Linked DNA regions of Homo sapiens: region 1 is linked to region 2. Evidence: fine-mapped expression QTL. A gene starts in region 2. The other region holds a variant in brackets. All regions are shown on one strand. Distances are from middle to middle. Region 1 has its middle 18 kb from the start of ZDHHC2. Region 2 holds the start of MICU3 (mitochondrial calcium uptake family member 3).

Evidence for each region.
Region 1: its variant is fine-mapped to the expression of MICU3 in whole blood (TOPMed, PIP 0.94).

What each region holds. Positions count from the first base shown.
Region 1 is chr8:17,133,101-17,143,713 of GRCh38, reverse strand. It overlaps a transcript of MICU3 not described here. Among named protein-coding and RNA genes, the nearest start is that of ZDHHC2, 18 kb to the left of the region's middle. The variant C/T (reference allele first, on the strand shown) is at 5,653.
Region 2 is chr8:17,020,287-17,030,565 of GRCh38, reverse strand. MICU3 (mitochondrial calcium uptake family member 3) reads right to left here and starts at 3,328. Exons shown (of 15, transcript NM_181723.3): 1 at 2,906-3,328. The coding sequence starts at 3,286. RefSeq lists an enhancer at 2,701-2,790 and a silencer at 2,941-3,350.

The DNA of each region.
Region 1 (10,613 bases), 110 kb before region 2:
AGTTCCAGACCAGCCTGGCCAACAAGGTGAAACCCAGTCTCTACTAAAAATATAAAAATTAGCCGGGTGTGGTGGGAGGCACCTGTAGTCCCAGCTACTCAGGAGGCTGAGGCAGGAGAATCACTTGAACCCAGGAGGCGGAGGCTGCAGTGAGCCGAGATCACACTACTGTACTCCAGCCTGGAGTCAGAGCGAGACTCTGTCTCAAAAAAAAAAAAAAAAAAAAAAAGCCTACTGAATTCCTTATTTAGAAAGTCAATATTATCTTTAATTATCTCTTTTAAAATAAAAAATAACAAAATTATATATAGCAGAACAATACATCACAGTTATAGAGCAGAAACTCTGAAAACAGAGAAAGATAAAAACTTCCCATGATTTTACCAATTAGCACAACCATTGTTATTTTAGCTTGTTTCCATCTGGTCTTTTTGTGTGTTTTCTTTTTAGAGTTGAAATGATAGCCTACATACAATTTTGTGTTCTCATAAATATTTCATTACAAACATTTTTTTCATGCTGCTATACAGGCTTCAGAATTATTTTATTAAATTAAAAAAAAAGTTTTTTGAGACAGGATCTTGCTCTGTTATTCAGGCTGCAGTGCAGTGGCATGATCATAGCTCACTGCAGCCTCCAACTCCTGGGCTCAAGTGATCCTCCTGCCTCAGCCTCCCAAAGTGCTGGGATTACTACCATGCCCAGTCTAGAATAATTTTAAATATTTGCACAGTATTCTATTCTGTAGAAGTACTATAATTCATTAAACCATTCCTTTATTGTTAATTATGTAGGTGTTTTCTAATTTTTCACTGGCATAACATACCATAAATAACTTGGCTCATCTAACATTCCCCTTCTATTTAGTTGTTTTCTTTGGACAGGGCCCCAGAAGTAAAATTAAATCAAAGAGTCAGTTTGAAAAACTATGTAGCTGTGATGATTTTAAATATGTGCACAAATTCTTTGATACTTCGCCTTTCAAGAAGTGAAGGCTCATCCCCTACCCTTGAGTGCTGAGTGGACTTAGTGTCTTAGTCCATTCTGGCTGCTATAATAAAGTATCATAAACTAGGTAGCTTCTAAACAACAGAAATTTCTTTCTCACAGTTCTGGAGGCTGGGAAGTCTAGGATGAAGCCACTGGCAGATTTGATGTCTGGTGAAGGCCAGCTTTCTGGTTCCCTCAAAGATGATTTTTCTCTGTACTCTTACATAGTAGAAGTGGCCAACGCGCTTGCTGGGGCCTCTTTTATAAGGGTGCTAATTTCTTTCATGAGGGCTTCATCCTCAGGACCTAATCACTTCCCAAGGCTCTGATATGGTTCAGCTGTGTCCCCACCCAAATCTCATCTTGAATTATAGCTCCCATAATTCCCACGTGTTGTGGGAGGGGCCCAGTGGGAGATAATTGAATCATGGGGACGGTTTCCCCATACTGTTCTTGTGGTCATGAATAAGTCCCACGAGATCTGATGACTTTATAAGGGGAAACCCCTTTCACTTGGCTCTCACTCTCTCTTTGCCTGCTATCATGTAAGATGTGCCTTTTGCCTTCTGCTATGATTGTGAGGCCTCTCCAGCCACGTGGAACTGTGAGTCCATTAAATCTCTTTTTCTCTATAAATTATCCATCTTATGTATGTCTTTATCAGCAGCGTGAAAATGGACTAACACAGGCTCCACCCCTAAACGCTGCCATCACCTAGGGGTTAGGGTTCCCACATATGAATTTTGGCAGAACACAAACATTCAGACCATAGCACTTAGTGACTCACTTCTAATGAATAAAATAAAGCAGAATTAATAGTGGGAAATTTCAAAGACTGGTTCAAAAAAAGACACCACGGCTTCCTCCTCAGCCTCACATCACTTGAGCCGTGAGAAGTTAGCTGCCCTGTTGTCATGAGCAGCCCCATCGAGAGGGCCATGTAGCAGAGGATGGGGGTCGCCATGTGAGTGAGTGTTCTGGAAGTCAGTCCTCCAGCTGCAGTCATTCCTTCTGATGCCTGTAGTGCGAGCCAACAGCTTGACTGCACCCTCAGGAGAGACCTTGAGTTAGACTCACCCAGCAAAGCTGCTCCTGACTGACTCAGAAACTGTGGGAAATAATGTTTGTTTTCTTAGGCAGCTGCAATTTGGGGTAATTTGCAATGCCGCAATAGATAAATAATACAGCAACAACGGAACTATTGTTTTGGAACATTTGTTTAACTCGGTTCGAACATGAGGCACTTAATGAGCATCCCAACTCCAGTTAAACGCAACAAATTACTGCCATTTAAGGTACATGTAAAGAGCCAGTGAGGGACATAGGGAGGACGAAGAGGGAGAGAAAAGGGAGAAGAGAATAAGAGAGGAAGAAAGGAAAAAATAAGTTAGCAAGAGAGGGACATGGGAAAGATGACTACATGTCCTAGTTTAGCTTGGATAGTCCCAGTTTGGAGCACTGTCTTGATGTAATTCTGAATAGAGTCCCTTTTCACTTTCAAAAGTGTCCCGGTTTGGATGATAAATTATATGACCCTAGATATAGGCCAATAATACGCCTTCCCCCAATCCAGTTCTTCGCTTTAATATTCCGTCTTTTCCCGATACCTCGTGCCCATTCTGCTCCAGCTCCACAGCACTGCTCAAGAGTCCTAAATTTCCCACCAAACCATAGTCTCACTGGCACCTCTTCCATGGCTTAGAAGTCACCTCTGTTTACTTCCCAGTACTCTTGCATCACAGTAAGGAATTCATCATGGTGGTTAAGAGCTTGGCTCAGGAATTAGACAACCTGGGTCTGAGTCTTGGTTTTATCCTTATTGCTATATAACCCTAGGGAAATTACTTAACTTCTTTATGCCTCAGATATGAGCTGGGGCATATATTATCTACTCTCTCATAGGAATGTTGAGGATATTAATAACAGTATGTGCATAAAATGCTCAGCATAGTATCTGGCATTATATATGTATATATATGCTAAGCATTTTATATGCATAATATATGTGATGACTGTATGTTAGCTACTATCAGCATTTAGTACCCGAGAAAAAAATCCATCTCATGGAGATGCTTTTTTTATTGTTGTTTTTGAGACAGAGTCCTGTTCTGTCGCCCAGGCTGGAGTGCAGTGGCGTGATCTCGGCCCACTGCAACCTACACTTCGTGGGTTCAAGCGATTCTCCTGCCTCAGCCTCCTGAGTAGCTGGGACTACAGGCGCGTGCCACCACACCCGGCTAATTTTTTGTATTTTTAATGGAGACAGGGTTTCACCGTGTTAGCCAGGATGGTCTTGATCTCCTGACCTTGTGATCCACCCGCCTTGGCCTCCCAAAGTGCTGGGATTACAGGCGTGAGCCACTGAACCCGGCTGGAGTTGCTTTTTAGTTGCTGGGACATGCATCTTACTAGAAAACTCTCAAGTATGTCATTGTATTTTTGTTTTAATGTTAGGAGGTAGAAAAAGTTAGGAAATGTGTCAAGCAGTAAAGGAAAAGTCAAGCAGACTATATCTACCTTTCAGGCTTGATATGCCTTACTTTGCTTATTCATTCATTCATTCACTTATTTTTCAACAAATATATATTTGTTATCTATCAAATACCAGGCACTATGCTAAGCACAGGATTAAACAGCACTTTTCAAAAAATAAATACCTAGAGCTTTATTCCCATTTCTTAAAGGAAAATCTTACATTAAAAAAAGCTATTGTGTGGCACTACTAAATAAGTAGGGGTTTGAAGCCAAATTTAGAAATTATATATAGACACATATATGTTTTTCTGATGATCAAATCTTTCAAATTGGCTTTGAACAAACAGGAGCAATTTTCTGCTATAAAAAGGAATGTATTTTAGCTTTTGACCTAATGATTTAAAAAAAAAACTAAGAGTGGGAAAATGCAAATTACGTGAATATATAATTTGGCATCGGTGACATATCAGCAGAAGGAGCTGCTGACAGGAAGACAGTTTTTTTTTTCTTTTTAGCCGTAGGCATTCCTCATTTCTGTTTTTAGGAACAAGGAAAACTAGTAGACAGAAATATCCCTGGGTACATGGACTACATATTTCACATGCACAGCATAAAATATTTAATAAAACGAAGGAGGTGCCTGAAAAATCAAGACTTCAATAGATGAAGGTGGTCACAACAATTAAAATACATCCTTTCTTCCCCCTCATGGCACAGGATAATGAGGTATGGAAAAAACATGTAGGGTTGCTTTAAACTATTTGGCAATATTTGCCAGATGAAATTTTGAAAAAACATTTTCTTTTCAGCGTTTTCATTCCACTTGAATAATGAGTACCACATTATAGGTTTCGATAGCCCATGAATTTTTATCTTTATTTTAATCGTTAAGGTCAAGTTAGCATTGATTACTAATAAGTGATTCTAAATGAATAGTATTATTTTAGGAATAATAGGAACTAACGTTTATTAAATGTTTACTGTGTGCTCAGTTCAGTGCTTTAAAGGCGATTTCCCATTTAATTCTCACCACCACCCAAGGACACAGCTGCTATCATGATCTCATCTCACACATGAAAAAGCTGAGAGGTGGAAAGTGTTACGACCTTGTTTAATTACAAAGGAAGTTAGCAAAAGAGCCAAGATTGGAACTCAGAGAAGTCTGACTCCAGAGCCCATGCTTACCCGCCATGCTATTCTGAATGGAAGGGCTCATGTAGTTCACCTGTTTATTCATATTTTCTAATTTGTTCTTTTTGAAATAGTGATTCCTGTTCAGATTCCACTTTTAATCCTTGCCCATTTTCTCAATTCTATGAAAGGCTCATTTAACTTAATAGTTATGCAAGTCCACACCTGTCTGAATGATACACTGGCTCATTCATTTAGTTGAAAGGTAGACACCAAATTGATTTTTAAAAAGACATACGAACCTAATTGAAAAAAAATTCATGAATCACCTTAATGAGGAATTGGTACCAGGAAATGCAGTACAGAGAACCTCAGACAATTTGCTTTTGGAAAAGCGCTAATCAACCACATATTCATCTGGAATGAAAATGCCTCTCTAGCAAGACATTGTGTGATAATGAAGTACAGGAGGTGAGAGCCGTCTCAGTGACTTTTAATTATTTCTCATTCTTCTGTGTCTGAAGACGATGGTGCGTATATTACCGAAAAGTGAGGTGACCAGTATTCTTTCCAGCATTGGGTAAATTAAAGACAAAGTGGACATCATTTGCAAATTCTTGCATTTTTTTCTTTGCAGCTGTTGTTCATCATTTCCTTCCCTAATTTGTTCCAAGATTAGCTGACTTGTCACAGTCATTTCCTCGTGGTCCACCACCCTGCCATGACGGTTGAAGGTATGTTCTGTGTTCTTTAAACCTCTATTTCTTTTTTTCCGAAACAGCTTCTGCCTCATTCAAAATAAAAACATTATAACATCTTGCTATTATCTATTTTACATACATTTACATTCTGCTGGAGTTACACCCTTTTTAATGCAAACCTCTTTGGAATTTGGTTGTTGAGTCCCTCATTCTTATTGATGAAACTCAAGAAATCAGATCAGACATCATAACTCTTTAAACATCAAATTCTCTTAAGAGTTTATCACTATGTGGGTGACATCTTTGGTATCATGAGCATTTTTACCATCTTAATATTCCTTCCTCCATTATAATT[C/T]TGAGAAAATCAAAATCCACTTCCATGTAATAGAAAATATTACTCTTGGCTGGGCATGGTGGTTCATGCCTGTAATCCCAGCACTTTGGAAGGCTGAGGCAGGCGGATCACAAAGTCAAGAGATCAAGACCATCCCGGCCAATATGGTGAAACCCTGTCTCTACGAAAAATACAAAATTTAGCTGGGCGTGGTGGTGCGCACCTGTAGTCCCAGCTACTCAGGAGGCTGAGGCAGGAGAACTGCTTGAATCTGGGAATCGGAGGTTGCAGTGAGCCGAGATTGTGCCACTGCATTCCAGCCTGGCGACAGAGTGAGACTCTGTCTCAAAAAAAAAAAAAAAAAAAAAAAAAAAAAAGGAAAAGAAAATATTACTCTTTCCCTTGTCTGTTTCTTACCATCCTGTATTTATCCAAACTTAGACATACTTACACACTTGGATACTGGCCCAAATTTCCATATCCCAAGAAAAGATGGGCTACATAGTTTTTGAAGCCCAGTGTGAAATGAAAATACAGGGCCCCCTTTTTTTTTTTTTTTTTAAAAAAAAGCAGGAAATAGTGTGGTTTAAGGTATTAAATATAAAACTTTTTTCTTCCTTCCGTGGTCTGTCTCTCTCAACTTGTCGTAGTGTTTTTATGTGCTATTTAATATCATTCTAAGTAAATAAAATTTAAAAAAATTATTAATATGATGTTCTCACAGCCACTGGGAGAAAAAAAATTAGTATGATGTTTACTGCTTATATTGGGCAATGCCAGTTTTAAATGCAAATAGAACATTTAACTCCTATGTAGAATCACTGAAATTACATAATTCATACCTCATGGCACTGATAAGCCAAACTTAGATAGGGGTACATAGGCAACCCCAAGGATATTGCAACCTTTGGGCTAGAAGCCTTTACGTACTTGGATTGAAGATAAGTGAAAGAAAGGTTTGGACGGGAGTGGTGGCTCACGCCTGTAATCCCAGCACTTTGGGAGGCCGATCATGAGGTCAAGAGATGAAGACCATCCTGGCCAACATGGTGAAACCCCGTTTCTACTAAAAATACAAAAATTAGCTGGGCGTGGTGGCGTGCACCTGTAGTTCCAGCTACTTGGGAGGCTGAGGCAGGAGAATCACTTGAACCCAGGAGGTGGAGGTTGCAGTGAGCTGAGATCACGCCATTGCACTCCAGCCTGGCAACAGAGAGAGACTCCGTCTCAAAAAAAAAAAAAAAAGGTTTATCTCCCCTGAGTTGTGGTCCCCAGTTGGCTACAGCCTCTGCACCACGGCACTGCCAGCCTAGGGTAGAATGGCTTCCACCATGCTCTGCCTGAAGACTTTCTGGGTCACGTATGCCCTGCCCAACTCCTATCTATACCTGCACCCAGGCCGCTGTTGGGGGATGAAGACTGGCAGCAGTAGCTGGACAGGGTGGGGAGGGTGAGGCCCTTGGCAAGACAGAGGGTAGCCAAGAATCCTAGGAAGGTGGGGATGGAATGGGAAGCAGAGCCATGAGTGAGCAGAGGCTCTAATCCCCTCCACAAGCTCCATTTTCCCAGTGACTTAAAAATTGTTAAGAATTTCAAAAGGGTGACAGCGGAGGATTAAAACCCATATGTGGAGCCCTTCTGACATGGGTCTTTGTGCAACTGCGGTGGTCACAAGGCCATGAACCCAACCCAACTGTGCAAGGGACTTCGTATTTAACCCAAGGAGATAGGTATAAGCAAACAACATCGCTTTACAATAAAATAATGAAAAATAACTTTTTTATTGTTGCTGTCCGTGATTCATACATAGAAATCTAAAAATACCTACTTTATTTCCTTTAAAAATATATGAGAAATGTCCCTCTCATGAATATAAGAAAACTCTTAGGGAAATATAATTTTCCCTGCTGTAACCATATTCCAGCCTACTGGTTAATAACCATGATGATGATACTAGCTGAACATACCCTAGGAGTTGTGTTGGAGATTGTGCTAGGTATTTTCCATGAATTTACTTTATGTGAATTATCTCAACTATGTCCTATAACATGGAGTAAGTACAATTTTTAGCTCTACTTTATAGATGAAGAAGCTAACATAGAGAAGTCAACTTGTCCAAGATCAGAAAATGAAAAGAATGATCTATTTGAGTTTATTACACTAATGTAGAATAATTTAATATAGGAAGCCTATAAAAAGATATATTACATCTGGAGGTCAAGTTGGAAAAATGATATAACCGATTTATCAGTGACTACTGAAAGGCATTTGAGATGATTCAACACTCAATCCTTTTTCTTCCAAATTCAGGAAATAAAGGATACTTTCTTCTGATCAACAGCAAAATGTTAATTTGAACAATTACAGAGATCATCCTATTAAAATGGGAATTCGAAAGATTTCTGCTGCCTCTATTAGTATTTTACACTCTTCTGGAGGCTATGATCAATGCAATAATACAGAAGATAGAAATAGAAGCAATAATGTAGATAGGGCAAAGACACATTTGCCTTAGTTTGCATGTAATATGACTGCCCACCAGAAAACCTAAGAGAATCAATTGAAAAACTTTCAGTACTACCAAGAGTTCAGTTAAGTGCTGAACAAATAAAATCAGTTGCTTCTCTGTATACCAACAAAAATCAGATAGAAAATCTAACGGAAAAATGTCCATTTTTTTTTTTTTTGAGACAGTCTTGCTCTGCTGCCCAGGCTGGAGTGCAGTGGCGCAATCTCAGCTCACTACAAGTTCCACCTCCCAGGTTCAAGCAATTCTCCTGCCTCAGCCTCCCGAGTAGCGGGACTACTCCTGCCCACCATCACACCTGGCTAATTTTGGTATTTCTAGTAGGGATGGGGTTTCACCATCTTGGCCAGGCTGGTCTCAAACTCCTGACCTTGTGGTCCACCTGCCCTGGCCTTTCAAAGTGCTGGGATTACAGGCATGAGCCACTGCGCCTGGCCAAATGTCCATTCTTAAAAGCAACAATAGGTATGCATATTATAGGAAAGACCATAATTGTAAGAAGCAGGCATGACCTGGATAATGAAACCCATAAATCTTGACTTGTAAGTAGAATATACAACTGAACTCAAATAATTATCACTGAATGAAATGGTATAGTATAAAGGTGTTGTGATGGTTAACGTCATGTGTCAACCTGACTGGGCCATTTGGTGCCCAGATACTTGACAAATGTTATTCTGGGTGTGTCTGTGAGGGTGTTTTTGGAGGAGTTTAACATTTAAATCAGTAGACTAAAGCAGATTGCTATCCCTGATGTGGGCAGGCCACATCCAATCATTTGAAAGTCTGAAGAGAACAAAAAGGCTGACTTTCGGCCAGTGTGGTGGCTCACGCCTATGATCCCAGCAATTTGGGAGGCCAAGGCGGGCGGATCACGAGGTCAGGAGATTGAGACCATCCTGGCTAACATGGTGAAACCCCGTCTCTACTAAAAAATAAAAAAATTAGCCAGGTGTGGTGGTGGGCACCTGTAGTCCCACCTACTCGGGAGGCTGAGGCAGGAGAATGGTATGAACCTGGGAGGTGGAGCTTGCAGGGAGCAGAGATCATGCCACCGCACTCCAGCCTGAGTGACAGAGTGAGGCTCTGTCTCAAACAAACAAACAAACAAACAAACAAACAAAAGGCTGACTTTCTTCTGAGTAAGACAATTCCTTCTGCCCATCTGCTTTCAAGTTGAAACATGAGCTCTTCCTAGATCTTAAGCCTGCCAGCCTTTGGACTAGAATTACACCATTGGCTCTCCTGGTTCTCAGGCTTTAGGATTGAAATAAGAAATACAACGTCTGCTCACCTGAGTCTCCAGCTTGCCACCTCCCCCTGCAGATCTTGGGATTTGTCAGCCTCCATAATCACATGTGCCGATTTCTTACAATAAATCTCTTTATGTACATCCCATTGGTTCTGTTTCTCTGGAGAACCATAATACAATTGTCAATCAGTCCAAATTAATTTATAATTTTAAAGTGAGTAAATAAAAATCTCACTTGGAGAAGATAAAACAATTCTAATATTCATCTGAAAGGATAAGCCAGTATGAATAGTTTTTAAAAATTAAAAAGAGGAATTTACATGTGGCTATTGAAGATGGAGGCACGTTAGTCTTACAAAATAGTCTAACATATTATAAAGTAAGTAAAACAATGTAGTTACAAGAACAGCCAGATAGTCCAAATGAAGAGAATAGTTTATTTATTTACATCCCCACACAAGGAGTATGCTGAAATAGATTTAGGTATGTAAAAATCTTTTTAAATATTTAAAATATAATTTGCATTATATTAGGTGGCAAAAAGGAAGAATTATTCCATAAATAGTGCTGGATAAGTTGGTTAGATATTTGTGGGTCAAACAAACTAGGTCCTCATTTTTTACCAGGTAACAAAATTAGTCCCAGGTGGATTTTTTTAGTTATATGCAAAGAAAATAGAAACAATAAAATATATGACAGTTTATTAAATTGGAAGAGGTATTTCTAAGCTTAAAAGCAGTAAGGAAATGGCAACTAAAAAGATCACATCCAAATACATAAAAATGAAAATCTTTGAGATATATATATAAATAAAACTGAAATAATACACTGGAAGAATACGTGCAACTTATAGGACAGCCAAATGATCTATATATTTGATATACAAAGAAAGTGAATGAACAGATTTAAAAAAATATATGTGGCAAAAGACAGAAATAGATAACCCATAAATAACAAAAATCTTAATGGTTAGCAAAAAATGTCAATAACAAAGGGGTTTATTTCTAGCTTCTGTTAATAGTGGAGCAGTTTGATTGGACTAATCCTCCAATTAAAAACAAACAAACAACTAGATAGTGCACTTTCCCCATCATAACCAGAATACATGGGTTCAGGAATCAAAAGTAGGATGAAAGAATGGCTCCTCTATTATATTTGTCTTAGTCTGTTTCAGCTGCTATAACAAAATAGCTTATACTGGGT
Region 2 (10,279 bases):
GACATTTGGATGTTACACTAATAAGAAGCCCATAATACTCACCAACATAAGTGGTGTTACATATATGTGCACATGTGCCTGCTGCCAGAAGACTACTGCACCTCTCATCTCTCCTATTTTTTGTAGACGCTCAACAGCATCAGAGAAAAAGAGCTGTAAAATACTGACATTTGGATGTTACACTAATAAGAAGCCCTTTCGTGCAGATGAAAGGACATGTTATGCACAGACACCCTCTGAGAGGTTCTCAAGTAAGAGACAGGTAACAACCACAGATATGTGAGGAAAACCTCCAAAATGAAAGCAAGAGCTTATAAAATCAAACAGAAATAAAAAAGAACCTGGAAGAAACAAAGCAATGCACAGAGAAGGCCAAAGTTATAATTTATATCCTTAGAAGGCAAAACAAAGTTATAATTTATATCCTTACAGCAAAAAGAGAAAATATAGCAGCCATATAGAAAGCAAAATAGAATGCTATAACTCATCAACAACAGAGAACACAAAGTCGCTCTTTGAATTAAAAAAGTAGAATAGCAGAAATAAAAAAATTCAGTAGGAAGGTTGGAAGATAAAGCCCAGGATATCTGCTATAAAAACAAATAAACAGATGAAAATATTTTTTAAAACCGAAATATAAGAATGATTAGAATTAGATTAGGATCTGTCAGGAAATTTAACTTCAAAGAAACAGCATTTCCAGAAAAAGAGAATAGAAAGAGGGAGAAGAGAAAAATCATCAAAGAAACAATAGAAGAAAATTACACAGAATTTTTTAGACACGGATTTCCATATTGAAAGGCCTCTTAAGAACCTAGCACAATCAGTGAAAAAATACACATCCCGAAGCTCATTACTGTGAAAATTTCAAGCACCAGGGATAAACAGATCATAAAAGTTTTCAGAGAGGGAAATACAAAAGGCATGACAATCAGAAAGTAGGACTAGAGGCTAGGGAAGCATAAGACACAGGACTTTAACATTATTTGACTTCTAAAACAATGAACAGAAATTTTTATAAACACTAAGCAATAATAACTGCACAAAAGTACAAAATAAATAAACGAATAAAAAATAATTTTTTTTTTTGAGATGGAGTTTCGCTCTTGTCACCCAGGCTGGGGTGCAGAGGTGTGATTTCGGCTCACTGCAACCTCTGTCTCCCAGGTTCAAGTGATTCTCCTACCTCAGCCTTGCCAGTAGCTGGGATTACAAGCGCCCAACACCACACCCGGCTGATTTTTGTATTTTTAGTAGAGACGAGGTTTCGCCATGTTGGCCAGGCTTGTCTCGAACTCCTGACCTCAGGTGATCTGCTTGCCTCGACCTCCCAAAGTGCTGGGATTACAGGCGTGAGCCACCACGCTCAGCCAAAAAATAAATTTATTTAATGTTCTTTAGTAGTACCATTGTTTTAAATATACTGTGTTAACTCATTTAACTCTCATAACACCCCAGGAGACTATTAGCCTCATTTCACAGGTGAGGAAACAGGCATTGACAGGTCAAGTAATTTCTCCATAATGACACAAGTAGCAAGTCGTGGAGCCAAAGTTCTAGCTTTCTGAACGTGGTCTTTTTAAAAACTGCAAGATAACATCTCTCAACTGTAAAAGTAAAATTAATTTTAAGAAAGAAAAGAAAATACTACTTGAATTCCCTACCTTGCTGATCTGTTCCTAGACCAACTATGGTTAATTAAAAGTTCTGCCATCATGAAAAACGCTATGCTCCTTGCCAAGCCACAAAAGTGGATGTGTATTTGTGAAGGGGGAGGGGGTGGAGATTTGAGGGTATTTCCTAGTATTTTGAATATTCATGTGTAAAAGGACTTTATGTTATGTGCTTGTGATCTGCTGCTAGATAGTCCATAAAGCAGATTCCGTAACCTAATTGCATTGACAACCTCCACCAAAGGAAATGATGCACTTACATCAGATCACCACTGCGTATTAAGAACAAAGCCTATAAAAATTGCATTAGAAACAGCATAGCTCTCTGTTTTCTAAATTATTTTCATCTACGCCGTTCACATTCTTCGAGCCTTGCAAGGAAAATCTCCTTAATTTTCCTAGTCATTTACATGACTATTAAATATACTGATGCGACAAAAAAAATCACGCTCCTTTACTCACTGTTGCCTTTCACACATCTTTACCTTGTATTATTAACTACATAATGACAGTTGAACATTTTCACGTGACTTTCTTCTGTAGGAGTTTGTGTCATTCACAGCCTCCTACATTTGCTATCCTATCCATTTTGTGTTTTATCGTTACCTACTAACGGGATTCTGGCTTTAGTGGGGGAAGGAAAAAGAGAGAAATACTTATGTCTCTTTTTGAACAATTTTTTATTTCTTTTCAGACCTGGTAACATCAACATTCCCTGGGTATGATAAGGGCGTTAGCATGCAGGTTTAGCATTTCCTTTCTTGGGACTAATAAATTCTCATATGCTAAAGTAGTGGCTTTTGAGATCTCAGACCGCTGCTTCGAAACTCATTCTAATGCAACAGACCTCCTGGGTCATTAGCTGTCGCCCCGCGCAATCTAGGAGTTCCTTTTTCCCACACCTACAGCGGTCCACTTTCTGCCTGTCATGGCCTTCATTTCTGAATCTTTTTTTGTAAGAGGGGGAGGGGTGTTGGTTTTGGGTTTGGATTGATACTTGGTAGCTGCAGCCACCTTTAAGGTCCTGATGCATCAGGGACAGCATCACTGGTCTTCCCAATACGTGGGTGACCGGATCCTAGGCTGTCCGGCCTAGGTGTCAGCCTCGCTCACGGGAAGTTCCTCACCCGCGGCCACAGCGCTTGCACCGTCCCCACAGCCTCCAGGGTCCTGCGTACCCGGCACGAAGGTCACATCCCCCGCGCAGGTGTGACGCGCGCTCGCGCACTCACCGTCTCCTTGGCAGCCGCCACTGGGATGGGCAGCATCCCCCGGCCGCGGGGCGGGTCCTCGGGCTCCGTGGCCGCGCTCTTTGAGGGTCGCCCGGTCGCCGGCGAGCCGGCCCTGGGGTCCCCGTACAGCTGGTAGCATACCAGGCCGACCAGCCCCCCGCCGGCCGCCGCCGCCACGCTCAGCTCCCCCCAGCGCCGCCGCCGCCTCCATGCCGCCTCCGCCACAGCCCTCTCCTCATCCTCTCGGGAGGAGAAGGGCCGGCCAGGAAGGCCCAGGGTGGTCACCGCAGGCCGCCCCCACGGCCCAAGGAGGGGCTGGTGAGCGCAGAGTGGAGGAGACACCCGGGGTGGCGGCCACAAGAGCCTTCGCAGCGCAGCCATAGCGGAGGCCGCCCACACCAGAGCTGGGAGGGGGCAGAGAACGGAGGGGCGGGGGCGGGGGGGGGGGTCGCCGAAATCTCGCGAGAAGTCGGTGCCGCGAGCTTCGCGGCCGGCCGAGAGCGACCCCTACACTCGCGCGGCCCCGGGGACCCGCGACGCCACCTTCAGCGTAGCGGTCCCGTGGTTCGGCCCGGGAAGATCATGGAAGAGGCGGCGGATCCCGGCTGCTCCCCGGCCCCGAACCCCCAGCCCAACCACGCAGTCATAAATAACCGCGCCAGCCCGGCGACACCTGGCTACGCGACAGCGCGACACTGCGGGCACAGCCGAGTCAGCGTAACTGAGGCGCGGCCGAGTGCGGGGCTCTCTGGGGCCCGCGCCGCTGCTACGGGCGGGGTGGGTCTCCGAGCTGGGCTCAGCGCCCGTCTGGGACACTCACATTCCCTAACGGTCTCCTGACCTCAGGAAACTCAAGGTCTTGACTCAAGGTCGTGAACGATTTGCAATTGTATCTTCACATATACGACACAAATGAGGTATAAGCATTTGGCTCAAGTCATAACGATTGCAAATTAAGGCAAACACTTTGACGACTGAAGGGCAGCTTCCGGACTTTTGATGGGAGAAGGCTAATGCTGTTTTTTAGAAGCATTAGCACACCCGCGGTCACTTAATTCAACAAATCAGAACTGTCTTGTGCATATAAAAGTTAAAAATTTTAAAACTTCTGTGAATAAAGATAAAATCTTGAACGATACCCTGATTTTTCAGGGAAGCGCTGTTTGTATAAATATAAAATAAATGAGAAGCGTATTGTGTCATCTTTTTGTTTTTACTGTACTTTTTGTTTGCTATGTTATCAGTATCAGTTTTTATGAGAAAGTGTAGATGAAGTTCCTATCAGTTTCTCTCCCCAGACCCCAGTTTTGGTAACTTGAATTATGTTAGCTTTTTCTTCCTACTATGGAATGGTGCCAGGAGTCCCTAAAATATTGTGGATCTAAGGGGACAGACAACTAAATACAGTGGTCTCAATTGGGCTGCAGTGACAAGAGAATACACCATCAGTTGATTCTGGCAATTCTTGTAAAGACTAAAGGCTTTCAGAGACGACCAAATGAGTTTTTTCTGGCTCAGGTCCTACAATTTCTTCCCTTTTTTTTTTCTTTTTTTGAGACGGAGTCTTGCTCTGTTGCCCAGGCTAGAGTGCAGTGGCACATTCTCGGCTCACTGCAACGTCCGTCTCCCTGGTTCAAGCGATTCTCCTGCCTCAGCCTCCCGAGTAGCTGGGATTACAGGCACCCGCCACCGTGCCTGGCTAATTTTTGTGTTTTTAGTAGAGATGGGGGTCTCACCATCTTGGCCTGGCTGGCCTCGAACTCCTGGAGGTCCTGCAATTTCTATTCCTAACACCTTGCATGTAAATAGCACATCAGGTACACCCTGTTACCTCTTATTTTAATAGAGGTTAATGGCATTTTGCTTTCTTAAAGCTGCTAAAAGCGGTAAGAAGAAAAATCTTCTGTAGCAGATGAACAAATTTTGTGTATTTTAAAACCTGTCTCTGAGTTTTCTTCAGTTTCAGCCTGTGGGTTTTATGGAGTCAATGCCTAAGGAAGACTCTGATAGCGTCTTGCTTTATCACCAAATTTTCCTCAATTTATGCTTTCTCTATATTCTGTGAAATGGTAGTTTCCCCAAATAAATTATCTTCTGGGTAATAATTATATATATTATATATAATATAATAATCATATTGGCCGGGCGTGGTGGCTCACACTTGTAATCCCAGCACTTTGGGAGGCCGAGGCGGGTGGATCATGAGGTCAGGAGATAGAGCCCATCCTGGCTAACACGGTGAAACCCCATCTCTACTAAAAATACAAAAAACTTAAAAAAAAAAAAGCCAGGTGTGGTGGCATGCGCCTGTAGTCCCAACTACTCAGGAGCCTGGGACAGGAGAACTGTTTGAACCCGGGAGGTGGAGGTTTCAGTGAGCCGAGACTGTGCCGCTGCACTCCAGCGTGGGTGACAGAGCGAAACTCTGTCTCAAAAAAAAAAAATTATAATAATAGTTCTGACACTGTTTACTTTGAACTGAACATGATTTCCTGATTTTCTCATAAATTCTTATTATAGTCTAATGCCAGAATTCTTGGACAAACTGATCAATTTTTACTAGTTGCATGTTAAAAGCTAAGTAGTTCTAAAGAAGATTAGGGAGGTAATACAATAACATCACATTACAGATGAGGAAAATGACATCCTTCATCTAAGATGACAAATACAGACACATACGTATAGATTTCTATGTAGTTTCTCTATAGTTTTCTAAATTTGATAGAGCTCCTGCAAACAATTTATCTGGTTAGAAGCTAAGTACTGCTGTGAGAAGGGCTAAGTTTATGTTTGTAGATCAGTCAGAGAACTTTGGATAAAATACCTCTCACGTGCAAAAACAGCTTTACTAATAATTTTCAACAGTACTTTCCCTCTAAAGGTGAAATTTCCTTAAGAATAGTTACTGTTTTCTTCCCACGTTTGATGCTCTGTAACTATAGCTACACAAAAATAACCAAATTCCCTTGTTATGTGGATATTTTTCTGAGTTTAATTCCCAGAGGAAAAATTTTAAGAAAATATGATATTAGGAATTTGGAACCTTTTTTTTTTGAAATTTCAGGTAATATTGTTGGATCAATATAGAGTCAACCCAGTATCCCTTATCTTTTATGTCAATTCTACTGAGCATTAAGAATAACCCCCAAAATGCCCCTACTCCACAGTGAGAGCCCACACCTTGAAAGAAATATCCACTTATCGTTCACTATGGTCTAAATAAAAAGAAATGTTCTGAAACAATAAAAATGTTTCAAACAATGGGGATTAAGCCAAAAAGGGTTTTCCAGGAAAGCATATACCTCAGTGAATAAGTAATAAATTAGAAGTGAAGAAATCTGGACTCCAGTCTTGGATTTGCTGCATCTTAATTATAATGCTTTGGAAGCCACAGTCTCTAAAATAGTGGAGTTGAAATAGATGATCACCCCTGAACCCATCTTTCTAATGAACTAAAATGCTCCAAGTGTATCAGTAAACCATAGAAAGATACTTCATGGTATTTTTCATGTATCATTTCTCTTCTGAAAATCTACAATTGGCCTAAGATTGTTTTATTCTTTCAACTTAAAATTCCATCCCCGGACCACGCAGGCTAACGTCTGTAATCCCAGCACTTTGGGAGGCCAAGGTGAGTTGATCACTCAGGAGTTCGAGACCAACCTGGGCAATATGGCAAAACTTCGTCTCTACAAAAAATACAAAAATTAGCCAGGCATAGTGGTGCGTGCTTATGGTCCCAGCTACTCGGGAGGCTGAAATAGGAGGATGGCTTGAACCGGGGAAAAGGAGGTTGCAGTAAGCCATCACTGAGCCACTGCACTCTAGCCTGGGTGAGAGAGCAAGACTATGTTTAAAAAAAAAAAAATCCATTCCTTTATCTAATTATTTTAACCTTCTACTGCATTTAAAATTGCAAATACGTTAGTGATTTTGAAAAGTTTGAAAAAGTGGAATATAAGTGCAATAGGCAGGAATGTCTTGTTTAACAAAACTTCTATTAAAATATACTGCATTCCTTATTTTGGTCATTCTGAGCTCCAGATTCTTGACTAGTTAAAAGAGCAGCAGTTACATCTGAGATCTGTATCAGGGCACATGAACCACCCCATCCCCAGGTCCACTCAAGTCTACCAGCAGAGAGCAAGGTTGCAACCATCTTCTTCTCTCTTGGGAAAGTTGTCATCATTTTCTCAAATTGCCTTCCACCTTCCATGCTGTCTTCCTTAGGGCAAAACTGACATAGGAGACAGTGTTGGGGAAGGTATGTTCTTGCTCTGTTTTCTTCAAAGTGCTACCCACCAGCAATCTAGAACTCAATTCCTCAGCATCCAGGGCTATGGAAACCAAGTTACACAAGACACTGAGGGTCTGTTTTCTGTTTTGATGAGCTCTCATTCCCAAAGACTGTGATCTGTATCTCACCCTTTTTCCATTAGGCAAAGCCAAGCTGACTCTAAGCAACATGAGGCCAGGGTATGCATCTTCTAGCCCAGTTCCTGGCACACATTAGGACCTCAATTATATTTACTAAATGAAAAGCAATGTCTTGAAAAGGGGGGAAGGTGGAGGTCAACATAGGAAGGCAAGTTAGGTGACAAGGAAATACAATGGCCCATCAGACACTAAACAAGCTGACAAACCAAGCAGCACATCAATGAGGAAATGCAATCAACACAGATGGGAGGCCAAAGGGAAAAAGCAAGGGACTGGCAAAGAAGGATCACAGATAGAGTGTGGGCTAGGTGAAGTGGCTCACACCTGTAATCCCAGCACTTTGGGAGGCCAAGGCAGGAGGATCATTTGAAGCCAGAAGTTCAAGGCCGGCCAGAGAAACATAGTGAGAACCTGTCTCTACAAAAATTAAAATTAAAATTAGCCAGGAGTGGTGGTGCATGCCTGCAGTCCCAGCAGCTCAGGAGGCTGAGGTGGGATGATTGCTTGCCCCAGGAGTTCGAGGCTGCAGTGAGCTATGATCATGCCACTGCACTCCAGCCCCTGGGTGACAAAGCAAGACCCTCTAAAAAAAGGGGAGGGGGGTGGACAACAAAGTATGATCATGCAGAAAGCTTGATTCAAGAACAGATTTTGTGATTTTCAGATTCTAGCACTGAAGTTATCCTGTTACTATGATTTGGCCGTATCCTCCTGGACTAGAGCCTTAAAGCCATAGGTTTTCCCCAAGGCTCTCTCCATTTTTTTTTTTTTCTAGGCGGAGTCTTGCTTTGTCACCAGACTGGAGCGCAGTGGCGCGATCTCGGCTCACTGCAACCTCCGCCTCCCAGGTTCAAGCAATTCTCCTGCCTCAGCCTCCCGAGTAGCTGGGACTACAGGCGAGCGCCACCATGCCCAGCTAATTTTTGTATTTTTAGTAGAGACGGGATTTCACCATGTTGGCTAGGATGGTTTCGATCTCCTGACCTCATGATCTGCCCGCCTCGGCCTCCCAAAGTGCTGGGATTACAGGCGTGGGCCACAGTGCCCAGCCGGCTCTGTCCATTCTTTTGGTCCTCCGAGGAAAATGCAGCATCATCCATGGCCAAACATCAGTGATTGACTGGCCACACCTCCCCTTTTGTTCTTAGATCTTTCACTGGGGACAATAACCAAGCTGGCAATTGTACACTTTTAACTACCTTTCCAGAGCAGTAACACCCTCGGTTTGACTACTACGTCTATCCAGTCTGTTTTACATAATTTCCAGGGTCTTTGTTGATGGTGTCTCACTGTTCAATTTCTGCTGTTTAAGTCCCACAATCCCCTGTGTCTTTGTTCTCCATTTGGTGGTAGTGACTTCTTATGTACTTGGGACACAGGCAATAGCAGGACGGACTTACTACCAGCAAAGCCTCCCACCGGAAAACAAGGAAGCTCTTTCTCAATTGTCTTTTCCTATTTTCATGTCTGATAGTGATTAAAGCTTCTATGTCCATTAAAAAGTGTCTTCTGGTGCAGAATAACCTCATAGTAACATAATGATCACCCATTACACAAGAGTGACACTTTGGTAGCAAAATGTTATGGGATCTTTGGGGTGTTGTTTTCCTGTCCAGAAACCTCTGTGGCCAGTGGTTCCTTTGCCTGAGTTTTGATTGGGCCCGCTGGGCTTAGCAGTGTCTACTGAAGCTGGACATATGCATATCCTATGACCCATTAATTTCACTTTTTAGGTGAAAGACTCATGAAAAGAAATGAGTACTTATGTCCATCAAAAGACATATACAGGAGGCTGGGCACAGTGGGTGGCTCATGCCTGTAATCCCAGCACTTTGAGAGGCCAAGGCGGGCAGATCACGAGGTCAGGAGATCGAGACCATCCTGGCTAACACGGTGAAACCCCATCTCTACTAAAATTACAAAAAAATTAGCTGGCTGTGGTGGTGGGCACCTGTAGTCCCAGCTAATCGGGAGGCTGAGGCAGGAGAATGGCATGAACCCGGGAAGCGGAGCTAGCAGTGAGCCGAGATCGCGCCACTGCACTCCAGCCTGGGTGACAGAGTGAGACTCCATCTCAAAAAAAAAAAAAAAAAAAAAGACATATAGAGGAATATTCATAGTAGCATCATTTCTAATTGGCAACAAACCAGAAACTATTCATATGTTCATCAACAGTGGCTTGGATTATTTAAAAATGTGGCATATTCACATAATGAAATGATATAAAGCAATGAAAATTACTGAATTGCAACTACATGCAATCACTGGGATAAATTTTAAAGCAAAAGTGAGGTAAAGAAGGCAGACACAAAAGAACCAACTTTATTACTCTATTTTAAAAGCTCAACAACAACAACAACAACAAATAGATATAAATAACATTAGACATTAGGATGGTGGTCTCCCTGGGTGCAGGGAAGTGATTAGAAGGCAGAAAAAGGAGCTTTGGGAGTTCTGTGTCTTGATATGGGTGCCAATGACACGTGTATTTACTCTATAAATATTCGTAGAGCTGTCCAGTTATAATTTCTATAACATTTTTATATACGTAACACTTCAATAAAAAGTTTATATAGAAGAAAACATAGATTTTCTTCCTAATGCTCTTATACTAATGTGTTATTTACTAGAGGACTTTGCTCAGTTATGAACTATACAACTTTAAAGGAATGTGTAGAGCTTGAAAAGAGTTCAACTAAGAACAATAAAATTGATTGAAGAATTGGAAACTAAAGGAAAAGTTTAGCTTATATAAGCTTGATATAGCCTGAGAAGATTTAACCAAGGAGTATTTTAATAAACATCTTTTACTACTTGAAGACTACTAAGAAGATACTATTAGTGATTTTTCGTATTTATTAAGGAAAAGACCAAAAGGAACTTTGTATTTTAAGCAAACAATGTAGTGTTTTAACTTCTTTAACTTGCAGCATTTTC